4 separate regions of the Homo sapiens genome follow, and all the other regions are linked to region 2. Evidence: fine-mapped expression QTL. A gene starts in region 2. Each other region holds a variant in brackets. All regions are shown on one strand. Distances are from middle to middle.

What was found. PIP is the estimated chance that this variant, and not a neighbour inherited with it, causes the effect.
Region 1: its variant is the best candidate, but not a certain one, in a credible set for the expression of UBP1 in whole blood (TOPMed, PIP 0.55).
Region 3: its variant is the best candidate, but not a certain one, in a credible set for the expression of UBP1 in whole blood (TOPMed, PIP 0.84).
Region 4: its variant is the best candidate, but not a certain one, in a credible set for the expression of UBP1 in lymphoblastoid cells (GTEx, PIP 0.89).

Annotation. Positions count from the first base shown.
Region 1 is chr3:33,260,843-33,268,913 of GRCh38, reverse strand. No RefSeq gene overlaps it. Among named protein-coding and RNA genes, the nearest start is that of FBXL2, 13 kb to the left of the region's middle. The variant T/A (reference allele first, on the strand shown) is at 3,642.
Region 2 is chr3:33,437,113-33,445,183 of GRCh38, reverse strand. It overlaps UBP1 (upstream binding protein 1), which reads left to right and starts at 4,779. Exons shown (of 16, transcript NM_014517.5): 1 at 4,779-5,448. The coding sequence starts at 5,336. RefSeq lists enhancers at 3,801-4,090, 4,301-4,490, 4,822-5,321 and silencers at 4,641-4,800, 4,861-4,970, 5,021-5,340, 5,571-5,620, 5,540-5,774 and 1 more.
Region 3 is chr3:33,386,630-33,394,700 of GRCh38, reverse strand. It overlaps UBP1 (upstream binding protein 1), which reads left to right. Exons shown (of 16, transcript NM_014517.5): 14 at 1,247-1,389; 15 at 2,087-2,138; 16 at 4,333-6,365. The coding sequence ends at 4,370. It overlaps FBXL2 (F-box and leucine rich repeat protein 2), which reads right to left. Exons shown (of 15, transcript NM_012157.5): 15 at 6,609-8,071. Among named protein-coding and RNA genes, the nearest start is that of UBP1, 50 kb to the left of the region's middle. The variant G/A (reference allele first, on the strand shown) is at 3,242.
Region 4 is chr3:33,395,426-33,403,496 of GRCh38, reverse strand. It overlaps UBP1 (upstream binding protein 1), which reads left to right. Exons shown (of 16, transcript NM_014517.5): 9 at 593-696; 10 at 2,481-2,535; 11 at 3,215-3,308; 12 at 6,362-6,452; 13 at 7,217-7,335. It also overlaps a transcript of FBXL2 not described here. Among named protein-coding and RNA genes, the nearest start is that of UBP1, 41 kb to the left of the region's middle. The variant G/A (reference allele first, on the strand shown) is at 4,671.

The sequences.
Region 1 (8,071 bases), 180 kb after region 2:
AAACCCAAAAGAGCAATAACAATCACTGCAGTCCAACTCTCAGGAAGCCCAATCCCTAGGGAAAGGGGGAGAGCACCACATCAAGGGATCACCCTGTGGGACAAAAGAATCTGAACAGCAGCCCTTGAGTTCCAGATCTTTCCACTGAAATAGTCTACCCAAATGAGAAGGAACCAGGGAAGTAATTCTGGTAATATAACAAAACAAGGTTCTATAACATGCCCAAAAGATCACAGTAGCTCCCCAGCAATGGATTCAAACCAAGAAGAAATCTCTGAATTGCCAGATAAAGATTTCAGAAGGTTGATTATTCAGCTACTCAGGGAGATACCAGAGAAAGTTAAAAAATAATGTAAAGAAATTAAAAGAAAATACAGGATATGGATGACAAATTTTCCAGAGAAATAAATATCATAAAGAAAAAACAATCACAACTTCTTGAAATGAAAGACACACTTAGAGACATACAAAATACACTGAAAAGTTTCAATAATAGACTAGAATATGTAGAAGAAAGAACTTCAGAGCTTGAAGCCAAGGTTTTTGAATTAACACAATCAGACAAAGACAAAGAAAAAAGAATTTTAAAATATTGAACAAAGACTCCAAGAAAGTTAGGATTATGTTAAATGACTGATACAGTTTGGCTCTGTGTCCCCACCCAAAGCTCATCTTGAATTCCCACATGTTGTGGGAGGGACCCGGTGGGAGATAATTTGAATCATGGAGGTGGTTTCTCCCACACTGTTCTCTCGTGGTAGTGAATAAGACTCACGAGCTCTGATGGCTTTATCAGGGGTTTCTGCTTTTGCATCTTCCTCATTTTCTCTTGCAGCTGCCATATAAGAGGTGCCTTTCACCTCCAGCCATGATTCCAAGGCCTCCCGAGACATGCAGAACTGTAAGTCCAATTAAAACTCTTTTTCTTCCCAGTCTTGGGTATGCTGTTATTAGCCGCATGAAAATGGACTAATACAGTACGTTGGTACCAGGAATTGGGTGTTGTGAAAAGATACCCAAAAATGTGACTGGGTATCAGGCAGAGGCTGGAACAGTTGAAGGACTCAGAAGAAAAGAGGAAAATGTGGGAAATTTTGGAACTTCCTAGAGACGTGTTGAACGGCTTTGACAAAAATGCTGATAGTGATATGAACAATAGGATCCAGGCTGAGGTGGTCTCAGATGGAGATGAGGAACTTCTTGGGAACTGGAGCAAAGGTGATTCTTGTTATGTTTTAGCAAAGAGGCTGATGGCATTTTGCCCCTGACCTAGAGATTTGTGTAACTTTGAATTTGAAAGAGATGATTTAAGGTATCCGGTGGAAGAAACTTCTAAGCAGCAAAGCATTCAAGAGGTGACTCGGGTGCTGTTAAAAGCATTGCATTTTAAAAGGGAAACAGAGCATAACAGTTCAGAAAATTTGCAACCTGACAATGCAGTAGAAAAGAAAAAACCATTTTTTGAGGAGAAATTCAAGCTGGCTGCAGAAATTTGCATAAGTAACAAGGAGCCAAATGTTAATCCCCAAGACAATGGGGAAAATGTCTCCAGGGCATGCCATAGGTCTTCACAGCAGCCCCTCCCATCACAGACCCAGAAGGCTAGGAGGAAAAAATGGTTTAGTGGGCTGGGCCCCGAGTCCCCACGCTGTGTGCAGCCTAGGGACTTGGTGCCCTGTGTCCCAGCCGCTCCAACTGTTGCTAAAAGGGGCCAAGGTACAGCTTGGCCCATGGTTTCAGAGGTTGCAAGCCCCAAACCTTGGCAGCTTCCATGTGGTGTTGAGGCTGCAGGTGCACAGAAGTCAAGAATTGAGGTTTAGGAACCTCCACCTAGATTTCAGAAAATTTATGGAAACACCTGGATGCCCAGGCAAAAGTTTGCTGCAAGGGTGGGGCCCTCATGGAGAACCTCTGCTAGGGCAGTGCAGAAGGGAAATGTGGGGTCAGAGTCCTGACACAGAGTCCCTACTCGGGCACCCACCTAGTGGAGCTGTGAGAAGAGGGTCACCATCTTCCAGACCCCAGAATGGTAGATCCACTGACAGCTTACACCGTGTGCCTGGAAAAGCTGCAGACACTCAATGCCAGCCCATGAAAGCAGCCAGGAAGGGGGCTATACCCTGCAAAGCCACAGGGGTGGAGCTGCCCAAGACTATGGGAAACTACCTCTTGCATCAGCATGACCTGGATGTGAGAAATGGAGTCAAAGGAGATCATTTTGGAGCTTTAGAATTAGACTGCCCCTCTGGATTTCAGACTTGCATGGGCCCTGTAAACCCTTTGTTTTGGCCAATTTCTCCCATTTGGAGCAGCTGTATTTACCTAATATGTGTACCCACATTGTATCTAGGAAGTAACTAGCTTGCTTTTGATTTTACAGGCTCATATGCAGAAGGGACTTGCCTTGTCTCAGATGAGACTTTGTACTGTGGACTTTTGGGTTAATGCTGAAATGAGTTAAGACTTTGGGGGACTGTTGGGAAGGCATGATTGGTTTTGAAATGTGAGGACATGAGATTTGGAGGGGTTTGGGGTGGAATGATATGGTTTGGCTCTGTGTCCCCACCCAAATCTCATCTTGAATTGTACTCCCATGATTCCCATGTGTTGTGGGAGAAACGTGATGGGCGATAATTTGAAACATGGGGGTGGTTCCCCTATACTGTTCTCTCATGGCAGTAAATAAGTCTCACAAGATCTGATGGTTTTATCAGGGGTTTCTGCTTTTGCATCTTCCTCATTTTTTCTTGCTGCCACCATGTGAGAAGTGCCTTTCACCTCCAGCCACGATTCTGAGGCCTCTCCAGCCACGTGGAACTGTAAGTCCATTAAACCTCTTTTTCTTCCCAGTCTTGGTTATGTCTTTATCAGCAGCATGAAAATGGACAAATACAATGACCAAGCCTAAGAATAATTGATGTTCCTGAGGAATAAGAGAAATCTACAAATTTGGAAAGCAAATTTGAGGAAATAATCAAGGAAAACTTCCCTGGCCTTGCTAGAGATCTAGACATCCAAATACAAGAAGTGCAAAGTACACCTGGGAAATTCATGACAAAAAGATCATCACCTGCGCACATAATCATCAGGTTATCTAAATTCAAGATAGAGGAAAGAATCTTAAGAGCTGTGAGGCAAAAGCATCAGGTAACCTATAAAGGAAAACCTATCAGATTAACAGCAGATTTCTCAGCAGAAACCCAACAAGCCAAAAAGGAGTGGAGTCCTATCTTTAGCTTCCTCAAACAAAATAATTATCAGCTGAGAATTTTGTATCCAACAAAACTAAGCTTCATAAATGAAGGAGATATAAAGTCTTTTTCAGACAAATGCTGAGAGAATGCTCTAATACCAAGCCAGCACTACAAGAAATGCTAAAAGGAATTCTAGATCTTGAAGCAAAAATCTCAAAATACACCAAAATATAACTGCCTTAAAGCATAAATCTCACAGAGTATATAAAACAATAATACAATGAAAAAAAAGCAAGGTATAACACAATGAAAAAAGAAACAAGGTATCTAGCACAATAGATGAAACAGTACTTCACATCTCAATACTAACGTTGAATGTAAATGGCCTAAATGTTCCACTTAAAAGATACAGAATGACAGAATGGATAAAAATCCATCAACCAAGTA[T/A]CTGCTGTCTTCAAGAGACTCACTTAACACATAAGGACTCACTCACATAAACTTAAGGTAAAGGGGTAGAAAAAGATATTCCATGTAGATGGAAACCAAAAGAAAGCAGGAGTAGCCATCCTTATATTAGACAAAGCAGACTTTAAAGCAACAACAGTTTTAAAAGACGTAGAGGGACATTTATAATGATAAAAGGATTAGTCCAACAGGAATATATCACAATCTTAAATATATATGCACCTAACTTTGGAGCTCCCAGATTTATTAAATGATTACTACTAGATCTAAGAAATGAGATAGACAGCAACACAATAATAGTGGGGGGCTTGTAATACTCTACTGACAGCACTACCCTGGTCATCAAGACAGAAAGTCAACAAAGAAACAATGGACTTCAACTATACCTTAGAACAAATGGACTTAACAGATATTTACAGAACATTCTACCTAACAACTGCAGAATATACATTCTTTTCATCAGCACATGGAACACTCTCCAAGAGAGACCATATGGTAGGCCACAAAACAAGTCTCAACAAATTTAAGAAAGTTGAAATGATATCAAGTACCCTCTCAGACCACAGTGGGATAAAATTGGAAAGTAACTCCTAAGGAACCCTCAAAACTATACAAATATACAAATTAAATAATCTGCTCCTGAATGATCTTTGGGTCAACAATGGAATCAAGAGGGAAATTAAAACATTCTTTGAATGGAAAGATAATAGTGACACAGCCTATCAAAACCTCTGAAATACAGTAAGAGCAGTGCTAAAAGGAAAATTCATAGCATTAAATGCCTATATCAAAAGTCTGAAAGAGGACAAATAGACAATCTAAGGTCATATCTCAAGGAAATAGAGAAAAAAGAACAAATCAAACCCAAATCCAGCAGAAGCAAAGAAATAACAAAGATCAGAGCAGAACTAAATGAAATTGAAACAAACAAAAAAAAAAGACGAATGAAACAAAAAACTTGTTCTTTGAGAAGATAAACAAAATTGATGGGCCATTAGCTAAATTAACCCAGAAGAGAGAATATCCAAATGAGCTCAGTTAGAAATGAAATGGGAGATTTTGCAACCAATACCACAGAAATGCAAAAAATCATTAAAGGCTACTTTGAACACCTTTACATGCACAGACTAGAAAACCTAGAGGAGATGGATAAATTCCTGGAAATCTACAATCCTCATAGATTAAACCAGGAAGAAATAGAAACTCTTGAACAGACCAATAACAAGTAGTGAGATTGATACAGTAATTTAAAAATCGTCAACAAAAAAAATCCATGACCAGATGGATCCACAGCTGAATTCTATCAGACATTCAAAGAAGAATTGGTACCAATTCTACTGAAACTATTCAGAAAAACAGAGAAAGAGGGAATCCTCCCTAAATCATTCTATGAAGCCAGTATCACCCTAATACCAAAACCAGGACAGGACATAACAAAAAAAAAGAAAAAGAAAATTACAGACCAAAATCTCTGATGAATATAGATGCAAAAATCCTCAACAAAATACTCGCTAACCAAATTCAACAACATATCAAAAAGGTAATACCCCATGAGAAAATGGGTTTCTTTTTTCCTTTTTTATTTTATTTATTTATTTTTTTGAGATGGAGTCTTGCTCTGTCACCCAGGCTGGAGTGCAGTGGTGCAATCTCAGCTCACTGCAACCTCCACCCCATGGATTCAAGCAAGTCTCCTGCTTCAGCCTCCCTAGTAGCTGGGACTACAGGCACCGCCACCACGCCCGGCTAATTTTTTGTATTTTAGTAGAGACGGGGTTTCACCATGTTGGCCAGGCTGGTCTCAAACTCCTGACCTCAAGCAATCCACCTGCCTTGGCCTTTCAAAGTGCTGGGATTACAGGCATGAGCCAACACGCCTGGCTTATCAAGTGGGTTTCATCCCAGAGATGCAAGGATTGTTCAACATATGCAAGTCAATATTTATGATACATCACATAAACAGAATTAAAAACAAAAATCATATGATCATCTCAGTAGATGCAGAAAAAGCATTTGACAAAATCCAGCATCCTTTTATGATTAAAACCCTCAGCAAAATCAACACAGAAGGGACATACCTCAAGGTAATAAAATCCATGTATGACAAACCCACAGCCAACAGTATACTGAACGGGGAAAAAGTTAAAAGCATTCCCCCTGAGAACTGGAACAAGACAAGGATGCCCACTTTCACCACTTCTACTCAACATAGTAGTGGAAGTCCTAGCCAGAGCAATCAGACAAGAGAAAGAAATAAAGGGCATCCAAATCAGTAAAGAGGAAGTTAAACTGTTGCTGTTCACTGATTATATGATCCTATACCTAGAAAACCCTAAAGACTCATCCAAAAAGCTCCTAGATCTGATAAATGAATACTATAAAGTTTCAGAATACAATATTAGTGTATACAAATTAGTAGCACTGCTATACACCAACAGCAACCAAGCTGAGAATCAAATCAAGAACTCAAACCCCAGTTTTTCATTTTGTTGTTTTTGTTTTGTTTTGTTTTGTTTTTTTGAGACAGAGTTTCGCTCTTGTTGCCCAGGCTGGAGTGCAGTGGCATGATCTCGGCTCACCGCAACCTCTGCCTCCTGGGTTCAAGCGATTCTCCAGCCTCAGCCTCCCGAGTAGCTGGGATTACAGGCATGCACCACCACGCCCGGCAAATTTTGTATTTTTAGTAGAGATGGGGTTTCTCCATGTTGGTAGGGCTGGTCTCGAACTCCCGACCTCAGGTGATCCCTCCTGCCTCGTGCTGGAAAAGTGCTGGGATTACAGGCTTGAGCCACTGCACCCGGCCAAGAGCCCAAACCCTTTTACAACAGCTGACAAAAAAGAAAAAAAAAAAACTTAGAAATACACCTAACCAAGGAGGTGAAAGATCTCTACAAGGAAAACTATAAAACGCTGTTGAAAGAAATAACAGATAAACAAATAGAAACACATCCCACACTCTTAGATGGGTAGAATCAATATTGTAAAAATGATCATATTGTCAAAAGCAGTCTACAGATTCAATGCAATTCCCATCAAAATACCACCATCATTCTTCACTGTACTAGAAAAAAAATCCTAAAATTCGTAGGGAACCAAAAAAGAGCCTGCATAGCCAAAGCAATGCTAAGCAAAAAGAACAAATCTGGAGGCGTCACATTATCCAACTTCAAACTGTACTATAAGGCTATATTTACCATAACAGCATGGTACTGGTATAAAAATAGGCATGTAGACCAATGGAACAGAATATAGAACCCAGAAATAAAGCCAGATAGTTACAACCAACTGATCTTTGATGAAGCAAACAAAAACATAAATTAGGGAAAAGACACCCTATTCAAAATATGGTGCCAGAATAATTGGCAAGCCACATGTAGAAGAATGAAACTGGATCTTCATCTCTTACCTTATACAAAAATCAACTCAAGATGGGTCCAATACTTAAATCTAAGACCTGAAACCATGAAAATTCTAGAAGATAACATCAGAAAAACTCTTCTAGACATTGGCTTAGGCAAACAGCTCACGACCAAGACCCCAAAAGGAAATGCAACAAAAACAAAGATAAATAGATAGGACCTAATTAAACTAAAAAGCTTCTGTACAACAACAACAACAACAAACAATCAGCAAACAGACAGCACACAGAGTGAGAGAAAATATTTATAAACTATGCATCCAACAAAGGACTAATGTCTAGAATTTAAAAGGAACTCAAACAAATCAGCAAGTAAAAGCAAATAATCCCGTCAAAATGTAGGCTAAGGATATGAAGAGAGAATTCTCAAAAGAAGATATACAAATGGCAAACAAACATATGAAAAAATGCTCAGCATCAATAACTATCAGGGAAATAGAAATTAAAACCACAATGTGATACCACCTTACTCCTGCAAGAATGGCCATAATTATAAAGTAAAAAAATAATAGATGTTGTCATGGAGGTGGTGAAAAGGGAACCCTTTTATACTGCTGGTGAGAATGTAAACTAGTAACACTACTATGGAAAACAGTGTGGATATTCCTTAAAGAACTAAAATTAGAACTACCATTTGATCCAGCAATCCCACTACTAGGTGTCTACCCAGAGGAAAATAAGTCATGATATGAAAAATGCATTTGCACACGCATGTTTATAGCAGCACAATTCACAATTGTAAAAATATGGAACCAACCCAAATGCCATATATATATATGCCATATAAAGGAACAAAATAATGGCATTCACAGCAACCTGGATGGAGTTGGAGACCATTATTGTAAGTGAAGTAACACAGGAATCAAAAATCAAACATCATATGTTCTCACTTATAAGTGGGAGCTAAGCTACAAGGATGCAAAGGCATAAGAATGATATAATGGACTTTGGGGACTCTAGGGAAAGGATGAGAGGGAGGTGAGGGACAGAAGAC
Region 2 (8,071 bases):
CTGAGGCAGGAGAATCACTTGAACCCAGGAGGTGGAGGTTGCAGTGAGCCGAGATTGTGCCACTGCACTCCCGCCTGGCAACAGAGTGAGACTCTCTCAAAAAAAAAAAAAGGAAAAAAAAAGAAATTTATCCCTCATGGCCGGGCGCGGTGGCTCACACCTGTAATCCCAGCACTTTGGGAGGCCGAGGTGGGTGGATCTCCTGAGGTCAGGAGTTCAAGACCAGCCTGGCCAACATGGTGAAACCCCATCTCTACTGAAAAAAAATATACAAAAAATTAGCTGGGCATGGTGGCGGGTGCCTGTAATCCCAAAAACTCAGGAGGCTGAGGCAGGAGAATCACTTGAACCTGGAAGGCAGAGGTTGCAGTGAGCCAAGATTACACCATTGCACTCCAGCTTGGGCAACAAGAGCAAAACTCCATCTCAAAAAAAAAAAAGGCCGGGCATGATGGCTCACGCCTGTAATCCCAGCACTTTGGGAGGCTGAGGTGGGCGGATCACAAGGTCAGAAGATCGAGACCATCCTGGCTAACATGGTGAAACCCCGTCTCTACTAAAAACAGAAAAAAATTAGCTGGGTGTGCTGGCGGGCACCTGTAGTCCCAGCTACTCGGGAGGTTGAGGCAGGAGAAAGGCATGAACCCGGTAGGTGGAGCTTGCAGTGAGCCGAGATCGCTCCACTGCACTCCAGCCTGGGTGACAGAGCAAGACTCCGTCTCAACAAGTAAAAAAAAAAAAAAGAAAGAAAAAGGAAATTTATCCCTCATAGTAGACTCTATAGCTGACTCTACTGCAAAGGCCATGGCACAACAGACTTTAAGTTCTCTTGCTAAAGTTGTGCTAGATAACGGAATTGCTGTATATTACTTACTGAGATACAGAGAAGTATGTATCTCTGTATGCAGATACTTCTCTGTATCTGCATACAGAGAAGTATGTATCTCTGTATGCAGATACAGAGAAGTATCTGCAGTTGCTCACACTTCTTGTTGCACAGAGATGAACATATCAGGTATTATAGAGATTCAGTTACAGGGGATTAATAAACAAGCTGCTTGGTTAAAACAGCTTGATCTTTTATCTAGCTCTTTCTTTGATCTATTTGATTTTAGTTAGTTTAGTTCATGTTGACCCTGGCTAAGGGGCATACTCCAAAGTCTTGGTATTATCCTCTTGGTAATCTTAATAGTAGTCTCCTATGTGCACTAAGGACTTTCAAAAGTTTTAAATGTTTACATACAATCATCCATAAAATGTCCATAAAATTTAAATAAATAAAAATTCCAACATAATAAAAAAAAAGTATCCTCTACTCTAACGCTTACCAGAAAATAACCTAAAGTCCTTATTCGCACCTTACAAAACCCACTGTTGTACTATTTCCCAATGGGATTTGCGACCAGATAAGTACATTTACAATGGTCAGAAAGTAATGTCAATGTCTAGGATTTTGGTCAACCTCTCTATTTTGGTCAAGTTGAGAGGTTGAACAAAAGGGGAGAAATTGTTAAATTGAGTTTAGCCTAAAGTTGCCTCCTTATAAGTTCAGCCTAAAGGTTTCTCTGTACACAGTAAATTGTAACCTAACTGGATGTATAAATGGTCTATAACCTATTATAACAATCGCTGAGTTTTGGCTAATTACAGGAGGCCAACTGTTCAAATAATACACTCAACCAATCAAGCTGTTTTTATATCTCACTTCTGTTTTCCGTACATCACTGTCCTTTTTCTGTCCATAAATCTTCTTCCACCATGCAACAGTGTTGGAGTCTCTCTGAACATATTCTGGTTCGGGGTGGCTACCTGATTGACAAATCTTTTTTTTGCAAAATTAAACTCTTATATTTAATTTGTCTAAAGTTTTCTTTTAACACTATCCTTCTTTTATATTTTGGTCTCTTTATGACATTACTATTTAGCGCTGCTTGATACTTCTATTTTTTTTCCAGACAGGGTCTCATCTGTCACCCAGGCTAGAGTGGCATTATCATGGCTCACTGCAAGCCTTGACCTCCTGGTCTCAAGTGATCCTCCCACCTCAGCCTCTGGAGTAGCTGGGACCACAGGTGCAGGTCACCATGTCTGGCTAATTAAAAAAATTTTTTTGGCCAGGAGCGGTGGCTCATGCCTGTAATTCCAGCACTTTGGGAGGCTGAGGCAGGCAGATCACGAGGTCAGGAGATCGAGACCATCCTGGCTAACACAGTGAAACCCTGTCTCTATTAAAAATACAAAAAATTAGCCTGGTGTGGTGGCGGCCGTCTGTAGTCCCAGCTACTCGGGAGGCTGAGGCAGAAGAATGGTGCGAACCCCGGAGGCGCAGCTTGCAGTGAGCTGAGATCGCACCACTGCACTCCAGCCTGGGCAACAAAGCAAGACTCTGTCTCAAAAAAAATTTTTCTTTTGTAGAGGCAGGGGTCTCGCTCTGTTGCCCATGCTGGTCTCAAATTCCTAGCCTCAAGAGATCCTCCCCTCTTGGTCTCCCAAAATGTTGGGATTACAGTTGTGAGCAACCATGACCAGCCAACACTTTTATTTCTATCCTCCAGAACTCTAATTTTTTTTTTGTTTTTTGTTTTTCGTTGTTGTTGTTTGTTTTTCTAAGGACAGGGTCTCATCTTGTCATCCGGGCTAGGGTGCAGTGGCACAATCATAGCTTACTGTAGCCTCAAACTCCCAGGCTCAAGTGATCCTCCTGCCTCAGTCTCTCTCAAGTAGCTAGGACTACAGGAGCGTGCCATCATGCTCAACTAATTTTTTTTTTCTTGTAGAAGCGGGATCTTGCCATGTTGCCCAGGCTAGTCTCCCAATTGCTGGCCTTAAGCCATCCTCCCAAGCTTTAAGTCTTGGTCTCCCAAAGCGCTGGGATCATAGGCCTGAGACACTGCCCAGCCTGAGGCTCAATTTCTAAATATTTGACCCAGTACTTCCTTAGGGCACAGCCTGATTGAAAAATTGATGGTAGCTTGTACTTTTACACTCTCTCCAAAAACCAGAGAATTATCTTCCCCCAATTCCATTTCTCCAAATTTTCCAACAACTAATAGTAGGCCTGGCTAATCTGGTTATAGACTAGGTTATGCAAGTGAGGTGAGATCATGGAATGAAGACATATCTGAGACCCCCAATGAGACCAATGTTTCCCTTGACTATCCAATTGTTTGTGCAGATTTATTTGTAATAGTGGAATGGAGCTTCCTGAACTGATGGCCAATCTAATGTTTTCGCCTGGAATCAGAGAAATCTGGATTAGTCAAATAGCCCCGGTTTACCTGCTTACTGTGTGACCTTGCACTGTGTAATCTTTACACATTTTCACCTGAATTACCTCATCTCTAAAGTATGGCTTTATCAAATGAAATGTTTGCAAAAATGTTGTGTAAAGAGAAAAACATTCTCCAAGTTAATTTGTGGTTTTTTTTTTTGGAGACCGAGTGTTGCTCTGTCTTCTCCCGGGTTCAAGCCTTACTCCCGCCTCAGCCTCCTGAGTAGCTGGGATTACATGGGCGCGCCACCACATCCAGCTAATTTTTGTTATTTTTGGTAGAGACGGGGTTTCACCATGTTGGCCGGGATGGTCTCCTGACCTCAACTAATTCACCCGCCTCGGCCTCCCGAAGTGCTGGGATTACAGGCGTGAGCCTGTAAGTTAGTATCTAAATCACACAGGCGTTGAGACTATTTTTTTCTGGCTCAGTGCCACTGCTTTATTAGGCTGACATTTTAATCTATGTATTTTTGCACTTAAACTGGCAAGTTGGGGCGGGGCGCTCAGCATTTGGGTCTTATTCTTAGGCAGTAAGTTCGATGCAGGGCGAAGCCCGGGCCTTGACGTTCTCTTCAGCAAGGATTCCGCCCGTCAAGCGCCAGCAGCCGCTCCTAAGGAACTCTGATCCGCACACTGGCTCTGTAAGTCAGCCTCTGGCTCCTGCTTTCTATTTCATCTCTTCCGGTAAAAAGATTTCTGTCTTTTGGCCGCAGTGGCGCGTGCCCACGCTAGGTCGCTGAGGAAGACCCTTCGGGCCTTCTGAGCAGCGTAGCTGTTACTGTGGCACGTCCTAATGGTTCGGTCCAACTTCAGGAGACCGCCTGCCCTTAGGATGACCAACAGCTAGTTCAACTCAGGATAGCCAAGCTGCTCTCGGCAATGCAACCAATAGGGGAAGTCTTTCCAGAGCTCTTTCTCAGGAGCGTTGATTGGCTTATTCTCACGCCAATCAAGGTTTTCTGCACAACTGGCTTTTCTGTCACCAGATGGGGTGCAAACCGCTCACTCCCTCGGTAGAGAGGGCATAAAGCAGAGACGACCGGGAAATACCACAGAGGAGCAAATCACCTCCGGAAGTGGCGTTTTGGGTCGCTTTCTACCATGCAGTCCAATGAACTCTTTCTTTTGGCAACAAATTCCGTCTTCGAGCCCGCCCAAGGTGAAGAACATTTTGATTGGTTGTTTAGTCGGGGGACACAGAGACTCACGGGAGCTTCGTCCAAGCCCTTGCAGGTATTGCTCAGTTGGCCTGTCAATCATCTCGCTCGCTAGAAGGGGCGGAAACTGGCAGCCCTTTTGGCACCGCCTCTTCCTGGGCTGCTGTGCGGGGACGCAGCGAGGCCACCCCGGCTGGGAACAGCCGCGTGGGCGGGGCCGCATTGCACTCTCTGGACAGTTCCTGGGCCGCGAGGCGCGGGGAGTGGCCCTAAGCGCGGGGCTGTACGGGGAGGGCCGAGGCGTGGGGCGAACGCCGGGGCGGGGTCGGGGCGGGGCCGGGGGAGGCGGAAGCGGCGCGTGAACCTAAGTCGGAGTCGCGTTGAAGCCAGCGTCCGGCCGGCAGAGCGGCGTCGGCGGGGTTGGCCGGGGCGGTGTGGCGCTAGAGCCTGGGCGGGCCGGGGGCAAGGAGTCAAGGCTTGGGGGCGGGTGACGGGCGGGCGGAGGGCTTGCCCCCGTGTGGTCCTCGGAGCGGCCCGAGGTCCAGCCTCCCAGCGGTCCCGGAGGAGGATGCGACCGGGGGGCCCCGGGCGGGGCGGTCGGCGGCGGCTGCAGCGCTAGCGGCGCGGGGGCTGGGCGGCGGCGCCGGCATGAGGCGCAGGGCCGGTGTCCGCGGGAGGGTGGCGCTGCCGGCGGCCCGGCCGCTCCCGCTGCAATTGCTCGCTGGGCTCGTCGTGCCCTGCCAGTGGGGCCCCCGCAGCTCTCGTCCCGGCCGCCGCTGGTGACCACTCGCCGCCCCTCCGGAGGCTTCACCCGCGCCCTCCCCCAGGACGCGCCAGCGGAGCTCCGGCTCCTTCGCCCTGGACGCGGAGGCCGCGGTGTGCGGGGCGACGGCGAGGCCGGAAGATGGCCTGGGTGCTCAAGATGGACGAGGTGATCGAGTCCGGGCTGGTGCACGACTTCGACGCCAGCCTCTCGGGCATCGGGCAGGAACTGGGCGCCGGCGCTTACAGCATGAGGTACTGGGCTCCCTGGGCGGGGAGAAGCCTCTGTCTCCTTGGGGAAGGCCTGCGCAGCCCTGAGTCTCTGCCAGATGCGGCTGCTCCCAGAGGTGCGCGGGCCTCCTGGGCTGCGGGGTCGGAGTCCTGCCGCGTGGCGGTCGGGGGCCATGGAACCCCAAAGGCCTCTGCTCGCCCTGGTGACGGGCGGGTGGGGGAGGATGGCCCCGCAAGCGTCGGCCTCGGACCGCTCCTGAGTGCTTCATATTTGCTGTAAAACACGCCCAGCTATTAGGATGGCTTGGGTTGGTGGGGGAAGGGGCTTCTTTTCCTTATAAGTGATTTACAAGTCCCATTGGAGCTAGAATACACTGTACGAAAAGGCAGCACTTATATTGGGAGAATACTGTCTAGCGTTTTGGGATCAGTTCCTACTTTGTTGTCCTACATTATGATCTTTTCTGGCTGCAGATTTTAATCACTTGATGTTAGTAAATTATAATTGAAAGAGCAGCGGTGGGAGTAGCACTGTGACTTCGTTTTGTTCTTTTGATTGTCTCAAAGTGAAGTTTCTCATTTTGGAGACTACCCTCTCAGGCTGTTTCCTCTTGAGGGTTTTAAGATGCAGTGATTGCACCACAAATAATTGTTTAGTCTCTGCTGTCTGTACCAGCAGTCATTCATTTTAATATGGAGAGATTGAAACAGATCTGAGCTTAGTCTCCGCCCTTTATCCTTTTTAACTGTTAGGAATTTGGAAACTCTGTATTTTTTTAGTGGCTTTATTGAAATATAGTTTACCATAGCGTTGACTTGACTAATAAAGTCTAAAAATCAGTGGTTTGGCAGCTTTTCAATAATGTGAATTAAGTGTAGCTTTCTGTTCTTTAGAAAATGTCTGATGTTTTGGAAGTGCTCTACAGTTTCCCAGTAGCATTCATACATCTTACTGCAGCTCTAGAGGAGGACTTCTGGGTTAAAGCTGGCCTGGAATCTTGGTGGCTGCTCCTTGAAGTAATTGGGTCTTTAAATCTTAAGGAGAAATTCTGAGCCATAAAGAACTCTCAGAAAGGTTGGAGACATTTCTTGGAGTGTGGAAGTGAGTAGTGGAAGGCATATTAAACCTGGAGTTCCCCAGCGTCTGGCTCTGATTTGGTCTCTGTTGGGCTTCCTGAACTTGGCACCTCTTCTCTCTGCAGTTGTATAACTTAAGGCCTGTAGATGAGTTGGCTTATTTTCTAAAACAGCTGTTTCAGTTGTTGAGGAAATTGAGCTACTGAAAGTCATGGAGTCACCCCAGAGGGGAGTATTAGAGGCAGTGCTTCTCTAGTGAAAACGCACTCCTCTAGTGCCATTCTGCTCCTTAGCTCTCTACTGGAAACACGAGGCTTATAGTCAAGGCAAAGGAGGCACGTGAAGCAAGTTCAATATGTGTCTCTCCTCAGTTGCTTCTCTTTTATGGTAAAATGAAAGTTTGCTGCTGAAAAGTTTACTTATTGATAGCTATTTTGAGCTTTTACTTTTTTCTAGGGTTTTATTTGACCTGTACTTTGATTTAGTGATTCAGCCAACTTATTAATGTAATAACTTCTGTGTATGGTTTATTTCCATGAAAAGGAAGTACAATCTTGATGATTTTAAACCTTTCCCTGACCATGTATTTTTAAAGTAATGTGTGAGATCTTTGTAATTCTGTGTAACCTACAGTACTCTTTACAGGGATAATTTTCCCTTGAATTCTTTTTTGGTTGTGTCATTTAATCTAAATTTTCAAAGAAGTTTGAAGGTAATTACCATTTTTAAGAAGGTTTTTTTTTCGTATTTAATTGAGTCCTCAAAAACTAAGAGATGAGAGTGCTTGCCTCTTGCAAATTCAAGGCCCTTTGTTTGAAATTCTCAAACTAAGGAAATTCCAAAATTGACTCGATAAGGAGAAAATCTGAAGAAGGCGTTAGCTGCTGCAGGCCTCCCTGGACTGCAGTTGTACTTTCCATGCCTGGCCCTGGAGCCCTGAGAGGGTTGGAGTGCCTATGAATGGCCAGCTTGAGCATTCAGTCACTTCCTCTGGCATCCAGTGGGAAGGAAAGCTTATCTTTCAAAGTTCAAGAAGTAAACTTGAAGAAATTACTGGAAAAATGACTTCTTGATACAAATTGATTTTGTAGGCAGCTTTCTATTTTTCTTTCAAAATGAAACATGCTTACTGTATTTGCTTTTTGGATGGCTTAAAACAAGAGGTATTTCTTAAAAGACTTCTCTTAGGGAATGGTTTCCTCATCTTTTGGGAGGATAGTTTGAAAGGAAGAAATGGCTTCTGTCAGTGGTCTGACTTAAAATTAGGCAGGTGTGATGTTTGGTATGCTTGTAGACCTAGCTACGTGGGAGATTGCTTGAGCCCAGAGGTTCAGGGGTGTAGTGTGTGCTATGATTGCACCTGTTAATAGCCACTGCATTCCAGCCTGGGCAAGAATGAGACCCCCTTCTCTTTTGTTGTTTCCCCCCACCCCTTTCTCTTAAAACAGTAGGAAAAATATGTTTGTGTAAAATAATGTAGGCTGGTAATATTGGGAATATATTGGGGCTAATTACTAACATTACCTTTGCTTCTCTTTTTCTTTTGGCTCTGGTTCTCATGTGTTCTGTG
Region 3 (8,071 bases), 50 kb after region 2:
TGGGTTTCTATACTCACAGACCCCTTGTTTGGGGAAGCAAAGTTCTCAGTAATGATATTCCTGATCCATGTCTGGCTTTAATCAGTAATTGAGCAGGACGTACAAGAGTGAGACTCACTACAGATGTGCACTGTGCAGATGTCTGCTGATAAGTTCTGTGTAGCAAAAATGCAGAACACTGGAATGTGGCTGGGGCTTTCTGTAAGGAAGCATCACACTTCATTGTTTATATTAGCTTTTCATATAGTATCTTTTATTTAAAATTTTTTGTGGGGGAGGGGCATATACAGATAGCTTTTATTCCTTAGGATAAATTCCTAGTAGTAGGATTACTGGATCAAAAACTATAATGCTTAACTGGGCGTGCTGGCTCACGCCTGTAATCCCAGCACTTTGGGAGGCCTAACTGGGCAGACTGCGTGAGCCCAGGAGTTTGAGACAGCTTGGGCAACATGGTGAAACCCTGTCTCTACAAATAATAATAATAATAATAATAATAATAATAATAAAAATTAGCCAGGCATGGTGGCGTGTGCCCCCACCATAGTCCCAGCTACTTAGGAGGCTGAGGTGGGAGGATTGCTTGAGCCTGGGAGGCAGAGGCTACAGTGAGCTGTGATTGTGTCACTGCACTCCAGCCTGGGCAACAAAAAAGGACACTGTCTTAAAAAAATAAACAAAAAGAACTATGACTCTTTTAGGGTTCTTTTTGTATATTGCTAGAAATACATGAAGTATATATTATTTTTAAAAACAGCTTTCTTCAGGCATAATTTACATACCATAAAGTCCTCCCATTGTAAGTATATAATGGTATTTTAGCCAATTTAGAGAGTTTGGCAGCCATTGTCAAAATTCAGTTTGAGTTCCATTATTTCAAGAAGATCCCCCATGTCCATTTGCAGCCAATTCCTGTTTTTAAATTTTGAATACATGAAACTATATTCATTGAATAAAAATATGAAGAAAAATTCAAACCTCAAATCTTTTTGTCCAGGGATTTCTGTTAATGTTTATTAAATTATATTTGTGGATATAAATAATGTATTCTTACGTTTTAGATTGGTAGTTCAAGATTTCAAGGTAGTAAGATGGGGGAAAGAAATAGTTTATTCCCATTTAAAATGTTTTTTTACTTTTTTGGTACTTTGAAAGGTGTGACCTTCGTACAGATCCTACAGATCAGGCAGAAAACAGATCAAAGATTACTGTTAAAATGCTTTTCTTTTTTTTTTTTTAATTTCAGTTTATCATGCAATCTACTTGGAAGAAATGATTGCCTCAGAAGTTGCTCGAAAACTTGCGCTGGTGTTTAATATCCCTCTCCACCAAATTAATCAGGTTTACAGACAGGGTCCCACCGGTATTCACATTCTTGTTAGTGATCAGGTAAATCAAATCATTTGTTTTTCCTTTTCAGACTGGTATTTACTTTTATACATGTAATTGTAGAACTGTAGAAAAATTCTGTGACCTCTTTTGAAAATACTTATGAGAATCATTTTCAGAGAGTTGGGAATCACTTTGGAAGAACTTATAACCAAGAGTTTCAGGCATCCTAGTGATAATATGGAATACAAGCCAAGGAAAACTGGCTTAGCCTCCCCCCAGCCCTTTAGGATGCAGCCAATCACTGGGGCACTCTAGGGATAGTGGCAGGCTTTGGCCCTTTTTATGAGGTGAGTCACTGGATGTGTTTTCCTTTTGTCTATTATTTGATGACTAATTTAAAAAAACATGTAAGATATATAATTTTTCCCCTAGTGATTGGTGGCAAGTAATAATAGAAGAGCACTTTATGCAATTTTTGTTCGAGTCATCATCCACTGGAGCCGGCAGGGAATGTGCCCCTGTGGGTCACATGGGTGACTGACCAGGTCTCTCAGGGACCATTATGGACAGGCATAGTGAACACAAGGCAGTGCAGCACGTGTGCATCTTTGCTGCCTCACACTGCCTTCATGAATTATCGTTTTGGCCATTGAGTCCTGTGTTTGTTTGAGAAGAATATTTACTGTTTTAAAATCATTTTAAGAAACGACAGTTGGATCTTAATTGTACTTACGCATTTACTTTATCCTTCCAGATGGTTCAGAATTTTCAAGATGAGAGTTGTTTTTTATTCTCCACAGTAAAAGGTACTTTGCATGTGTGTGTGTCTTAAAATGCTGGAATCATGAGAGATGGTGTGTGCCTCTAATTAGTGCCTCTCGTGTTTATTCTTTAAAATGATTGCTTTACTCATTTTAAGAAGAAAGTTTGATAAATGAGAATATTTCTAGTGGTTGTAACAGAAATTAGCATATAAGGAAGAGGAGTCAGTCTTTCTAGATGACTGGAAAAAAAAATCTCAATTCATTCAGCCAACGTCTTACTGAGCACTTTGTGTCAGACACCGTGCTTCTGTCGCTCAGTGGATCTATTGAATAAAACAGAATCCATGAAACTCCTATTGGGGAAAGCAAACCAAAATTGGCCAAGAGATACACAAAATTCCCAATATGTTAAGTTCCATGAAGGAACAGGAAAGTGTGGGGGTACTTATGGATAAGGGAGATCTGGGTTGAGGGGAATATGAAACTGTAAGGCAAGGCTTCTCTGAGGAGGTGTTATTAATCCTGAGACTTGAAGAATGAGAAGAAGCGGGAGCTGGCCATTGGATTAGCATCCCCAGGCAACGTGGGGCTGTGTGCAAAGAAAACACCTGGCTTCTTGGAAAGCCTGGCAGTGGGCCATGTAGGTGCCATGCAGTGTGTGAGGGTGAGCGGATCAGGGCAAATCAAAGCAGGAGGCCGGGTCTGGCATGCGGGGACCGGATGATGATGGTAGTTCGGATTTACTTGAAATGCATTGGGTTGTCACTGAAGTTGTTTAAACAAAGGAGTAGTAATGTGACTAGATTTTTCTTTCACTTTCACAACTCTGTGGAGACAGATGAGAAGGTGGCAAAACGAGGCAGGAGATATCCAGGTGAAAGGTGATGGTATCTTACACGTTTATAGACAGGGTCCCAGTGGGCTCCACTTTTGAGGGAGGAATAGTTCTGACACCTTATTTTCTGTGGAAAGTAACTGGGCAGATGGTGATCTCATTGAAGAGGTAAGTATGGTTGGGGTAAATCAACCAAGAGTTTGATTTTGGATATGTAGAAATGTCAAGTAGGCAGTTGACTATTACCAGTCTGGGGCTCAGAGAAGAGGCCTGGGCTTGAGATGTAAATTTGGAAACCTTCAGCATATCA[G/A]CAGTGACTCAAAGCTGTAGAAGTTGTTAAGGTCATTTAGGGAGAGAATATGAAAAGAGCCAGGACCAGGCTTAGGTGGCTCCAACATTAAAGAGGAGGGATTCCTAAATGTAAAATTATTTGAGAAGAGATCATACATTCATAGACTGTTTTAAAAGTCAGGTGAGCTAAGATCCAAATCCGGTCTTAGCACAAAAGCTGCCCCTAGAAGAGGGAGATGTCATGTGTGTCAGGTGTCCCCAGACTACTGAAATACTGATTTTATTTTGCGCCTCACATGTTGCGTATGCCATCAGGTTACCTGCAAGGCTGAGTTTTAACTCTGAACTGGTTCACTCTTTCAGAAACATCTTTAGCCTAGTACCCTTCTGCTCAGTCTTTTGTTTTCACAGCAGTACAGTTTTTACCTTGCATAACTGACATTGTCTGAAAAAGAAGACATATACTATAATTGCATAGTTTTGTTTTGTGAAACCAGCAGACATTTTTTGGTATTAGAAATCATAGGATCTCCCCTCTAATCTCAATTTACTGTTTTGTTTTTTTTTTTAAACTTTGTCGTCATGAGAAAAATCATTTTTTTATGAATGCCTATATTGCTTCTCACTATTTACTGAGAAACACTAGGCAAAAGGAATGATACAGTTTTAAAATGTTTGAAATCTCTGTGAGTAGCTCAGAAATTTTTCTGGAAAAGGTAGATGTACACATTTGCATTTACTCCCTCAGGTCCTCTGCCCTGACACAGTATATTTCACCTGTTCTCCTTCTAGCTCTTGCTCCCCTTATGGACAGCACTATTATTGTGTGTCTTGATAGATGTCCCCCTACCCCCAGAACTGGCAGACAGTGTTGGAATGCGGGCGTTGATAGTGGGCCAGGCTTCGCAGAATGTCTAAAAAGGGAATGTGTACATGAAGTTTTTTGGGGGAAGAGGAGCTAGAGCAAGTTAATCTGCTTGTTTCTCTAGAATCATTTAAAGGTAACCTCTGAATTGGGAAGGGAGGTTGTAGTTGGCAGGGAGTTTTCCATTTAATAGGCTTAATTTCCTAAGCCTGACTGAAGAAATACTGTCTTTCCTTTTTCTGCAGCTGAAAGTAGTGATGGCATCCACATAATTTTGAAGTGATGTCTTATATAGACTGAACTGTATTCAGTACCAAATAGTCACGCTTAAAAGTGTGTGAAGACTGAATCCAAGAAGTCTTGGGATTGGATTTTACCATATGAAATGTTTCATATTGAAAACACAAGATGACCTTTCTAATGAGCTGTATGAGAGGTGAATCTCCTCACTGTCACTGCCATAGCCAAGCATCCTCATGAGAGTGAGCACATCGGCACAGCATGCATCCAGCTCTGGAGGCCACGGTGCAGGCATAGCTGCCTGCTGCTCTGGCAGAGGCCAGTAAATACAGTTCCTAGAAGCAGCCTTTGCTGTCTTTTTACACTGTATGCGGTTTGGAAATGAATGTAGAAACTTACTGTGGGCATTTACCTTTCTGTGCCAGTTTGGCTTTTATTGCCTGAACCTTATGCTGACCTGGAGAGGAGATGGGGGACAGTGCTGTTGTGGGGCCAGCAGTGAATCTGTATGCGGAGAGTTGTGTTGTGCTGATGTGGCCGTTGGTGGTCAGGTAAGAGGCTCGGCACCTTCTTGGAAGAAATCATGTCTGAGGGTGTACGTTTGATATGATCATGCCAGATTGGAGAAGATCCAAGCCAGGAAGATGGGCTTGAAGCAAACTGCATTATCAGGAGTACCTTGGTGAGAGGATCAGTGTAAATCCTAATAGGTACAAAGACTTTTGTGTTTTGGCTTTGTCACAGATTTATTGAAAAACTTTTTTGCTTCTGCTTCCATTTTTAGCATTTTAGTTTCTGGTTTTCATTTTTGGAGATTCCTTGCCTTTTAAACTCGTGGTTTTTCTCTCATTTTCTTCCCTCTCTCCCTCCATCTCTGACCACCCCCACCCTAACCCCCCACCCCCACCATCCTATTAAACATTTTTAAAGCCCTACCCCAGACATTGGAAATAGGTGACCCAAGTAGGGGGAGAAAGTATTATTGTTGATAGCTTCTGACTAGGTGTTAAGGGATCTTCATTATGAACAAGATGAATTTTTTTCTGGAAACACTAGATGTTATCAATCAAACACTAAAATGTACCATACAAATCCCTTAAGCCTCTCAAATATTGAGCTTTAGTACAATCATGGATAGACATTCTGGTGATGATTTAGGGGCTTTTTATACACCACATACTAGCTTCTTTCTCTATAAGAGTGCCTCTTTCATAAAACCAAATGCTTGTCTGCTAGCATACTTTTCAAAGGGAATCCACTGTTTTCTCACTTTCCTCCCATATCTCCGTCCTTCATCCAAAACCTTCCCAGAATCCATCAGCAAGCATGTTTGAGGCCTGTGGTGTAGGGGACTGAATTTTTTTTTTAACTTCTATTCCATTTTAATTGTAGGATATCTTTGTCCATATACCCAGGTGTCCTGATTTGAATGTACTATTTGATCCTCATTGTGTTCAGGCAAAAAATAGGAAATGAGTAATTTTGAGTTTGAAATCTCTCCCAGAAGACAAACTACTTCAGTGAGTAAAAGCTTTGACATTTTATGTTTTATTCATAAAGGGGGTTAATTATTTGCTACAAAGAAGCACGATCTATTTTCATCATCGATTTGAAAATATCTGTAACTCCTATAGATCCTATAGGCAGAGAGTTTTCCTTTCTGACTTTTTCCCTTTGCTTTCGTGTGACCACATGTTTTCTGTACCAGTCACTGGGGAAAGAAGTGAGTTTATCTCGTTTGTTTTAAAAGTTTTGCTTGTCTATTTAGCATTCCTTTTTGGGTCTCAAGATTTATGGAACAATAAATGTCATTTAATGCTGTGTGCTTATTTTGAATTCCTCATCAGGTTTTAGAAGCGGGGTAAAAATACTTAGATGCTTATCAGACTTGAAATTATACTGAGTGGCATTGAACGTGAGTTTGTCCCAGTGAAACAGGCTAAATAAATTTTGGCACCAGCAAATTTGTTACTTTGTTTTTTTAATAGTAGGATGTACACATTTCAGTATAATAAATGTTTTCTGATTGTTTTGCAAATGTGTGTCTCATTTAAAATCCCAGTTCCTGCTACTGTCACTTCGTGTCATAGAATCAAGGAGTTTCCCTGTGTGTATTCTGAGCCAGTCTAAATGTAGTAAGAGGTTAGGCTCATAGTTTTTTCCTTTTCAGTTTATTTTCTGAAAGCTGATGCAACTGAGGATATGTTGTTATTCCATTAACTAACTAACTAACTAACTAACTAACTAAACTATTCCAGACTTTAAAAGGAAGCAAACCTGATTTTCTTTTTTTTTTTTTTTTTTGAGACGGAGTCTGGCTCTGTCACCCAGGCTGGAGTGCAGTGGCGCAATCTCGGCTCACTGCAAGCTCTGCCTCCCGGGTTCACGCCATTCTTCTGCCTCAGTCTCCTGAGTAGCTGGGACTACAGGCACCCGCCACTATGCCCGGCTAATTTTTTTTGTATTTTTAGTAGAGACGGGGTTTCACTGTGTTAGCCAGGATGGTCTTGATCTCCTGATCTCACGATCCGCCCGCCTCTGCCTCCCAAAGTGCTGGGATTACAGGCGTGAGCCACCGTGCCCAGCCTGCAAACCTGATTTTCTTACAAGAGGTTCTCCTGTTTTGTAAATGAGGCCATGGATCATTGAGCATCAAGTCCAATAGCTGTGACTGATGATAGGTTGTATCCTGGCTCAAAAGAAATCAATCATGTATAGAAGGCTCTGGTGGTTTGTTTTGTTTGTTTGTTTGTTTTGTTTTGAGATGATGATGGAGTCTCACTGTTGTCTCCTGGGCTGGATGGAGTGCAATGGCACAATCTCGGCTCACTGCCACCTCCGCCTCCTGGGTTCCAGCATTTCTCCTGCTTCAGCCTCCCGAGTAGCTGAGATTACAGGTGCCCAGCACCACGCCCGGCTAATTTTTGTATTTTCAGTAGAGATGGGGTTTTACTGTGTTGGCCAGGCTGGTCTCAAACTCCTGACCTCAGGTGATCCACCCGCCTTGGCCTCCCCAAGTGCTGGGATTATAGGCATGAACCACCGTGGCCAGCCTTAAGTTAATTTTTTTTAATAGAAACTAAACTAATTCATAATCACTGAAGCAAGTCTGTTATATGCTCATTTATTGAAGTTGCTTCCTGCATCAGTCCTCCTCCCCCATCATCTCTTCCACAACAAACAGTGGGTATAAATGTATATTTAACTAACTGCTATGGTATCCACACAATTTTTAGACCAAGGAATACTGGAATATATCATAAGGCAATAAAATGACTTTAATGCTTACTCTGATGATAATTGTGCTAAGTCCGTTTATGGGGAGATTATATATATATATAATCTGCTTCTCTTCCTAGAATGCAGCTGACATAATATATCCTTAAAAACACTTCTAAAACTGCCTAATAAAGGTATTGGTAGTCATGGGAACACATCTTGCTTTTGCCGTTTCACTTTTAAGTTTCTCATGAGCTCTGGCCCTTCAGTTTGGGGGAGTGGTTGTTTGGAAGGGCCAGCCACCATGAACACCTAAGTTTACAATGAAGGTGGTGATGACTGATTGACAGGTTCTTAATAAAGATCATAAATATGGACAGCATGGAGCAAGAATGAACCACAGCAGAGAGTAGGGTCATTTTATCAGATTTCAGATAACATCAGGAAGGTCTGCATTTGGAAAATGGTTTTGCTTGGATGTGTCTGCCATAAAATCATAGCAATAAAACCCTCTGACTTAATTTT
Region 4 (8,071 bases), 42 kb after region 2:
GATAGATAGAGATAGATGTAGTACTGTACACAGTTGATGTATTTTGATGCTGGGCCTGTCTGGTCTGTCTTGAGGATTATTAACCTTTAGAGGTATCAGAGAAGCAAATGGGTACTGGTGAGGCTGCTCATTAGGGAAGAGGGCAAAAGGAGCACTAGCTAGGTCAGAGCCATGTTTCAGGTCACCATGTGATGTCAGATGTTGCTTATAAATCCTTTCTTGTCTTCGCCATTCTTAAATCTTGATAGGTGCCTGTTGGGAAACTGATAAAGAGGATACTGGTAAAGAGGGAGGAGAAAGCTCTTCAAAGCAATTATACTTAAGCATATATTTTAAATGCCTTTATAAATTTTTGCTGCTGTCATCACTTTAGGTCTTCTCTAAGATTAATCAGTGTCTAGACGCACACAGCAGGTAAAACTTTTCTTTGCCACACAGAAGTAAATTTGACATGTGTCTGTGAGGTTGCTTGATAAATGTCAGCTGTCTCGCATTTTATAATCTTGCATTTGGTTAGTGAGTGAATTACAAAAATATTTCTTCCACATATTTTAAAAGCATATCACTAATTTATTTCTGTTTCTGTCCTTAGTGTTCTCCGTGGCCCGATGCCCCCACAGCCTATGTGAATAACAGCCCTTCCCCAGCGCCCACTTTCACCTCCCCACAGCAGAGCACTTGCAGTGTCCCAGACAGGTATCTAGTTTGTGTGATCGTGTGCCTGCAGCTAACTAATGCTCATGTGCCTTCATTTCCCCATCTCTCCATGTACAGCAGCCTTTTGTTTGTATTGTACCTAAAGGAAACAGTAAGGGGAAGTATCCTGTATCTTGGTGGCAGAGGACAATCATTGTCTTTTCTTCACCTACCAGCCTTTTTTACTCCGAGCCCCTTGTGCCTTAACATAGTCACAACTATGGTAATTGTAGACAAGGCGCCATTTTCAAGACATAGCCAAGATATATTCTTTGTAAGATTAAAGACAACATTAACAGTGTCTATAGGTAGAGAGAGAGGGACAAAGTGAGTTTATTACTAAGTTCATTCACTTGTCTGTAATGCTTATATCAAATGGGTTATTTTCTGCAGTATTTCTTTTCTCTCCCAATAGATATGCTATTTTTTTAATTAAATCTTTAAAGGAAGACCTTTCGGTTTCTACAGACTTGCTGTGGTTTTAGAAATGGAAATGGTGGACTCTTTATTCTGTTATCCAGCCTTGACTGGCAAGAGTCTAGAGTAAGCTCAGGGTGGGAGCAAGAGACTGCATTTGGGGCATCTTGAAGGTACAGCAGTACCCCATGGCGGCTTTCCATTCTAGGGCTTTGCTGCAGAACTAATGCAGAGTAGTTAGCATCAGAAGTTCCCTATTTTTAGGAAGTTTCTTGTTGGGGAGGAAAATTATGAAAGCTAAGATCACAAAGAAAAAGGTTCTCCGGTCATGCTGACAAGGTCTGATGAGAAAGCAAGCAAAAATGTGCTCTCCCCCTGAGGAGATGGATAAACTGAGAAGGCAGCTTGTTGTCATGTAGGCTATTATGCTTTAAGAGTAGAAAAATAGCCTTGGACTCAGAAAATTAGAGGAGTGACCAGAGGACCAGTAGGTTACCATGTCTGAGGGCTTAGAATAGTTTCCTAGTCAGTCAGTCCGGTCTGAATAATCTTAGAAAATGCTTATGGCTTTAAAGGTGAGCTGTAAGTTTATGTACTCACTAGTAGACTGGAGAACTTATTGTGTTCCCAGCACTGTTCTAAGTGTTCTGATACATTAGTGCCCAAACAGACAGACCCCCGTCTGAAGGAGCTTAAGTTCTTATGGGTAGAAAGGATATAAATAATCAAGATAATAAACCTAAGCAATTGAGGCACGGGGGCTAAGAAAGGAGTCGGTGCTCAAGAGCCAGAAGGTAGCCCTATTCCCTGTGGAGCTGTTTTTCATTTCATTTTACTTAGAAGCACAAGGATAGTGGTACAAGTTAATTTCTTTTGTTCTCTTGAAATTCACCCTCATCAATCTTGGATATATGTATTACTTAAAGGAGTATCATTTTATATTTTTGCTTAGGGTCATTGTACTATTTCTTGTAGCTCATTTTTTTTGCAATTATTTTCAACTATTTATCTAATTTGATGTTTCATATTTTTTCCCCTAACTTTTAAAAATTAATGTGTATCCTTCATTTTCCTTGGCATCCCTGAAGATAATTGGGGAAGCCCTTTTGTTTCACAAAACTTGAATTTCTTACTAGTACAGATGAAGAAGGCACAAATTAAGACACAGTCTTCTGTGTCTTAATTTCGTCATCATGTCCACACCCTAAGCTGTTGCGCTTGCATTTTGTTGCAGACTTTCATAGCTGTCTCCCACTGTTGCCTTACTTGAAATTTGCATAGTTACAATGCAACAGCTTTTAATGCCTTGATTAAAACATATATGTATTATAAAAATCATCATTTCCTTCTTTCTCCTTTCTCCCCAGCAATTCTTCTTCCCCAAATCATCAGGGAGATGGAGCTTCACAGACCTCTGGTGAAGTAAGTATCTTTCTCCTAAAACTATCTGATGCTTTCAGGGTTCTACATTTTAAAGTTTTGGTTTTTGTGCAAATGTATGGAGTAGGTGAGAAGTTTTGTTACATGTATGGTAATGTGTGGTAATCGAGTCAGGATATTTTGGGTGTCCATCACCTGAGTAGAGTACATTTTTTTAGGTATAGTCATCCTACTCTGCTACGAAATACTGAATTTACTCCTTCTGTTTTATTGTATGTTTGTTTGCACCCTTTAATCCAGTTCTTCTCATCCTCTCTCTTATCCCTCACCCATTCTTCCCGGTCTCTGTTACCTATTTTTCCACTCTCTCCCTTCATGTGTTCAAATTTTTTTAGTTCCCACATATAAGTGAGAATATAAGTCTTTCTGTGCCTGGCTTATTTCACTTAAGACAATGAAATGTTCATGTTGTCCATGTTGCTGCAAAAGGTGATTTCATTAGCAGCGGCATGATTTTTCTCTTTTTTTATGGCTGAATAGCATCCCATTGTGTATCATGTTTAAGTTTCTGACAAGGGCCTGCATCATTTGGGTTGCTGGAGTCAGACTCATGCTCTTTTTGGGTGTTTTTTACTTCAGACTCCGAGGCTTTCTGTGTTTTGTTTAAATGTTCTAAGTCTGAATGGTTCCTTTTATTTATGTTCATTTTCATTGTTAATAGCAAATTCAGCCTTCAGCTACGATCCAGGAAACACAGCAATGGCTGCTCAAAAACAGATTCTCTTCCTACACAAGACTGTTCTCTAATTTTTCAGGTATGTGTATGTGTGTGTGTATCTGTGCATGAGAATGTTTTGTTTTTGTTTCTGTGCTTTTATTAACTTTATATTTTTAAAATTTTGAAATAACTATGGATAGGAAGTTGCAAAGAAAAATGTACAGAGAAGTTCTTTATATCTATCCCCCAATAGGAATATCTTGTATTTTTATTATATGCTATTGAAGCCAGGCAGTTGACATTGGTTCAGTCAGCAGTTTTACCAGACTTACGTGACCTCATTTGTGTGTAGGTGTATATAGTTTTACATGATTTTTTTCATTTTAACTTTATTTTGAAATAATTTTTGTTTTACAGTAAGTTACAGAGCTAGTACAGTGATATTTCGGTGTACTCTTCACTCCGTTTCTCACATAATTATAGTACAATAGCAAAACCAGGAAACTGACATTGGCACAACGTATGTTATGGTATAGATATTTGTAACCACCACCACAATTAAGATGACAGGATTGTGCCATCACTACAAGGATCTCCCTCCTGCTACCCCTTCGGAGTCACACCCACACCCTTCCCCCACCATCCCTAGTCCTTGGCAACCACTTTACATTCTGTCTATAATTTTGTCATTTTGAGAATGTTATATAAATGCAATCATATAGTATATAGCCTTTTGAGATTGGCTTTTTTTCACTAGCATAACGGCCACCTAAGTTGTTGTGTTTATCAGTAGTTTAATCCTTTTTACTGCTAAGTAGTGTTTCATAGTCTGAGTGTACTCAATTACAGTTTTTATATACTTATGGGTAAGTTTTTTTTCTTGCACAGTAAGCTAAGGGAATGTTAAGAAGGAATTTTAAAAGGTATCAAGCACTGCTTCTCCAGGTAGTGCTATAGGAAACCTGTTTAGAGGGACAGTAATAGATAATGACAGGTGGGGCAGAGGTAGCATTTCCCAAATATATTTGGCTCTGGGACTCTTTTCCAACATGACCACCTAGTAACATGGCCTGGCCAAACATCCTGAGAAGTGCTGGATCACAGTAAAGTGGTAGTTAGCATTCCTTCACCTGCAGTGCAGTAGGGCCATTAAAACACAACTTTGTGAATCCCTTTAAGAGGACAGAACTTGTGTGTGCACACACTCAGCCTGAAGAAAAGCTTGATTTTGCTAAGAACATGGTTTCTTACTATGCCACGTATTGTAATGTTTGTGCAATGAGTAGTTATTCCCCGTGTACTTCTTTGTCTCTTTAAAGTTCCCTATGGAGGTCATTTGCTAGCTGGGGACTACATTTTTATATGATTAAGTAAAGCCTTTTATGTGTGAAAAACTAGAAATTGTAAAATTTCAGGGTCGGGGAGCTGGGGTTTGTCTTGCACTGTTGTATGGAAGGCA[G/A]ATGAAAAGCATAGCACATAGAAAAAGCGCCGACATTTGGAACTGAAGGAGGCCCCACATTACTCCTTTTACATCAGGCAAATCCATGTTTCTATCTGGTGAGTTTTAATCCCTTTCGCTGTGAGCAGTGATCACATGGCGTGGCCTTCTGCCTTTTCCTTATCCTGGGGGCTTCTTCCAAGAAAGTGGGCGAGGAGCTAGCCATGGTACCCTTTGGGCACATCTCCTGAGTCACAGCACTGACAGTAGCATGGTGAGGAGGACAGTGAGTCTTCTTGCTCTGATCCTTGGGGGCATTCACATTTCAGGAAGGGTTGTACATTGCAGTTATCTGTCCAGTTCTCTGTATGGGTTAAGGGTGTGCACACACATACACAGTACTCTCTGGTCACAACTGTGAGGTGCATGTAGTAAGCCCTAGTAGAGAGATGAAAGAGAGCCTCTTTGCTTACCTGACTCTATAAAATGACTCTATTAATGCTCATGTCTCATGGGAGATGTGCTTCTCTGATCTTTGTTTTACAGACTAGAAATTTAGTAGGCTATTGCATTTGAGCCTTTAAAAAATAGAAAGATGACTCCATTATCTTCTACATATGTAAGTGGCTATTTATCATATGGAAGTCAAGCCTTCATCCCAAAGTTCATCTTAATTCCCCCAATAAACTGTATCCTGGGTGTTAGAGAATAAAACAAAAGATTATGGATACATTCAGACATTAAAAAGTAGAGAGAATATGATGAACTCCCATGCAGCCATCTCCTACCTTCAAAAACTACCAGCATTTGGTCAGTCTTGCTCTCCACTATTTCCTCTCCTGCCTTCTGTTGTATTTCAAAGCAAATCCTAGATGCCATATCATTTATGCTTGAAATACTGAATAGTAGTTCATGGTGTGTATGTACTCAGGTATGGCTTTTTTATACTTATATGTAAGTTTTTTTTTCTTGTATGGTAAGCGAAGGGAGTGTTCAGATAGAATTTTTAAAAGTGTCAAACACTGCTTCTCTAGGTGGTGCTATAGGAAACCTGTATAGAGAGACATTTACACTTGTAAATGACATCGTAAGTAGGATGTGCTTGGGGGAAATCTTAGGGTATAATGTGTGATTCTCTGCCATTCTTCTGTTAAAATTAGCTGCTGTGACAGAGTTGTTTATGTTATAAAATTTAACATGTTTGACTTTACATTGCACGTTTCAGAATAAAGAGGCCCAGTCCTAGTTCGGCTACCAACTCTTACAGACTTTAGGCAAGTCCCACAAACTCTGGACTTCCATTTCCTTTTTTTTAAAATTAAAGATTGACTGGCCCGGGTGATCTCAGGGTTTGTTTCTGTGGGGTGGGTTAGAATCATGTTTCTTCACATAGCCACAACCCAGTCACTAAATAAGGTAGATGAGTGAAATCCTATATCGGGAAGAGTTCTTTAGGCCCTGCTCTCATTGATTTGATTCATCAGCCTCAGGACTTCTAAGCTCCTTCTTGATACAGGACATGGAAAAGCCAGCATTTTCCTTGGCTCTGAAGGACAGGTGTCTGTTTGTCTTCTTATATTGTTCATGTGTATGTGTGTATTCAGGATATCTGATTATTTTGAAGGACATTGGACTGCATGAAGACAGATGCCTGTAAAGCAGTTCTGTTCTTTTTCCATTTATTTGAGAAAAATATTTTTGCTCTTCTCTAGGTGCCGACTTATTAAAACTGACAAAGGAGGATTTAGTTCAAATTTGTGGTGCAGCCGATGGAATTCGGCTCTATAATTCACTGAAGTCAAGGTAAAATACTGTGAACTGTTTTGCTTGAAATAAGAATGTACCTTTCTTCGCGTGGGGAATTTGGGCAGAATGTGTTTCCACGCTAGGTTGGCGTGTGTGCCTGTGTGCGCCATCGAGCATTGGCAGCATTGTGCTCACAAGAAGACTGTTTTGTGTACACCTTCAGGGCAGGCCCAGATATGATGCAGGCACTGATGAGGGCAGAGGTAGACTGTAAGACTGGTAGAAATGCACATGGGCAGTACTGATTTCTTGAAGACGACTGGGTTTGTTGCCAAGAAAACAAAACTTCTAATTTAGGTGAGCTATACAGAATCTATGGTTTTCAAGGTCATGACTATTACTAAACAGTTATTAAAAATGTAAACTAATTGTGAATTAAAATGACAGAAACTGTAAATTGTGCTGGCTTGTAAGAACCATTTACTATCATTGCTCTTTCTATACTTGTGGTGTGAGAATTCCATTAAAATTGAATCTTACTGATTTTTAATTTGCTGACTTAATCTTGAAACTTAAATTTACCAGCATCTGACAGACCATCTCAATGGTTTAGAGTCTGGATCATCATATTAGACCACCTGTGATAGTTGGTGTGAGGTGTGTGGTTTTTATATTTTTATTAGTAAATTACTTTGTATAACGAAATAACATTATAAAGTTCTCATAAGGAAATAGAACTTAGATTCCTGTAGTTGTCATATTTGTACATGTGTAAGGCAGCTTTCTCTCCCAGGCTCATCAGTGGCATCTTCTGATTGCAGGTCGGTTAGACCCCGTTTAACCATCTATGTCTGCCGGGAGCAGCCAAGCAGCACAGTGCTGCAAGGGCAGCAGCAAGCTGCAAGCAGTGCAAGCGAGAATGGCAGTGGGGCACCCTATGGTAGGTATTGAGGGCATCTCAATTCTGTCACTTCTGAGACTGTCAGACAGAAACGGAAAGGACTCGATTGAGCAGGCTTTGGAGAACTCTTGCTGTGTTAGGAATGCCAAGTTGCTCATGTGGGAGCCTTGACAGCAATGAGAGGTGGCAGCTCTAGGGTGAAGTCCTTGGGAGAAGAGGAAACTGGCATTCTTTCTCAGTCATTGCAGCCACACTATGGGTCTGTTTTTCATGTGGCCCTTCATGCCGGAAATATCTAACAAGTGGAAAAACTAGCTTGAATGCATTGAGTTCTGGCTTTTTTTTTTTTTTGGTCAGATTTACTGAAATGATGAATATAACACTGGCAGCTTAACAAAAAAGCAGGAGGGTTTTTCTTTCCTTTTTCTTTTTTTTTTTTTTTTTTTTTTTCAATTTTCCTGACTAGGTATGGGGAGAACTCTTAAAGCATAACATATGTGCAACAGTGCCTGCATGTAATAGTCCTAAGTGTGTGGACTTGTCACTGACAAGTGTTCGGCCAGCATTGTGCACCTTGTGTGGCGCGTCTGGTGCCGTGTTTTTATGTCACTGTAAATAATACTACCCAGTACGTTATCTTGGGAGGGCTTCTCATCCTGAGCATTTAATTGTACGGTATAGTGCTGGATTAGGACAGAGATAATCTTGGCTTCTCCCTCTTCTCACCTCTAAATATGGCCCTTAAAAAAAGCAAGCATTTTAAAAGGCATATATT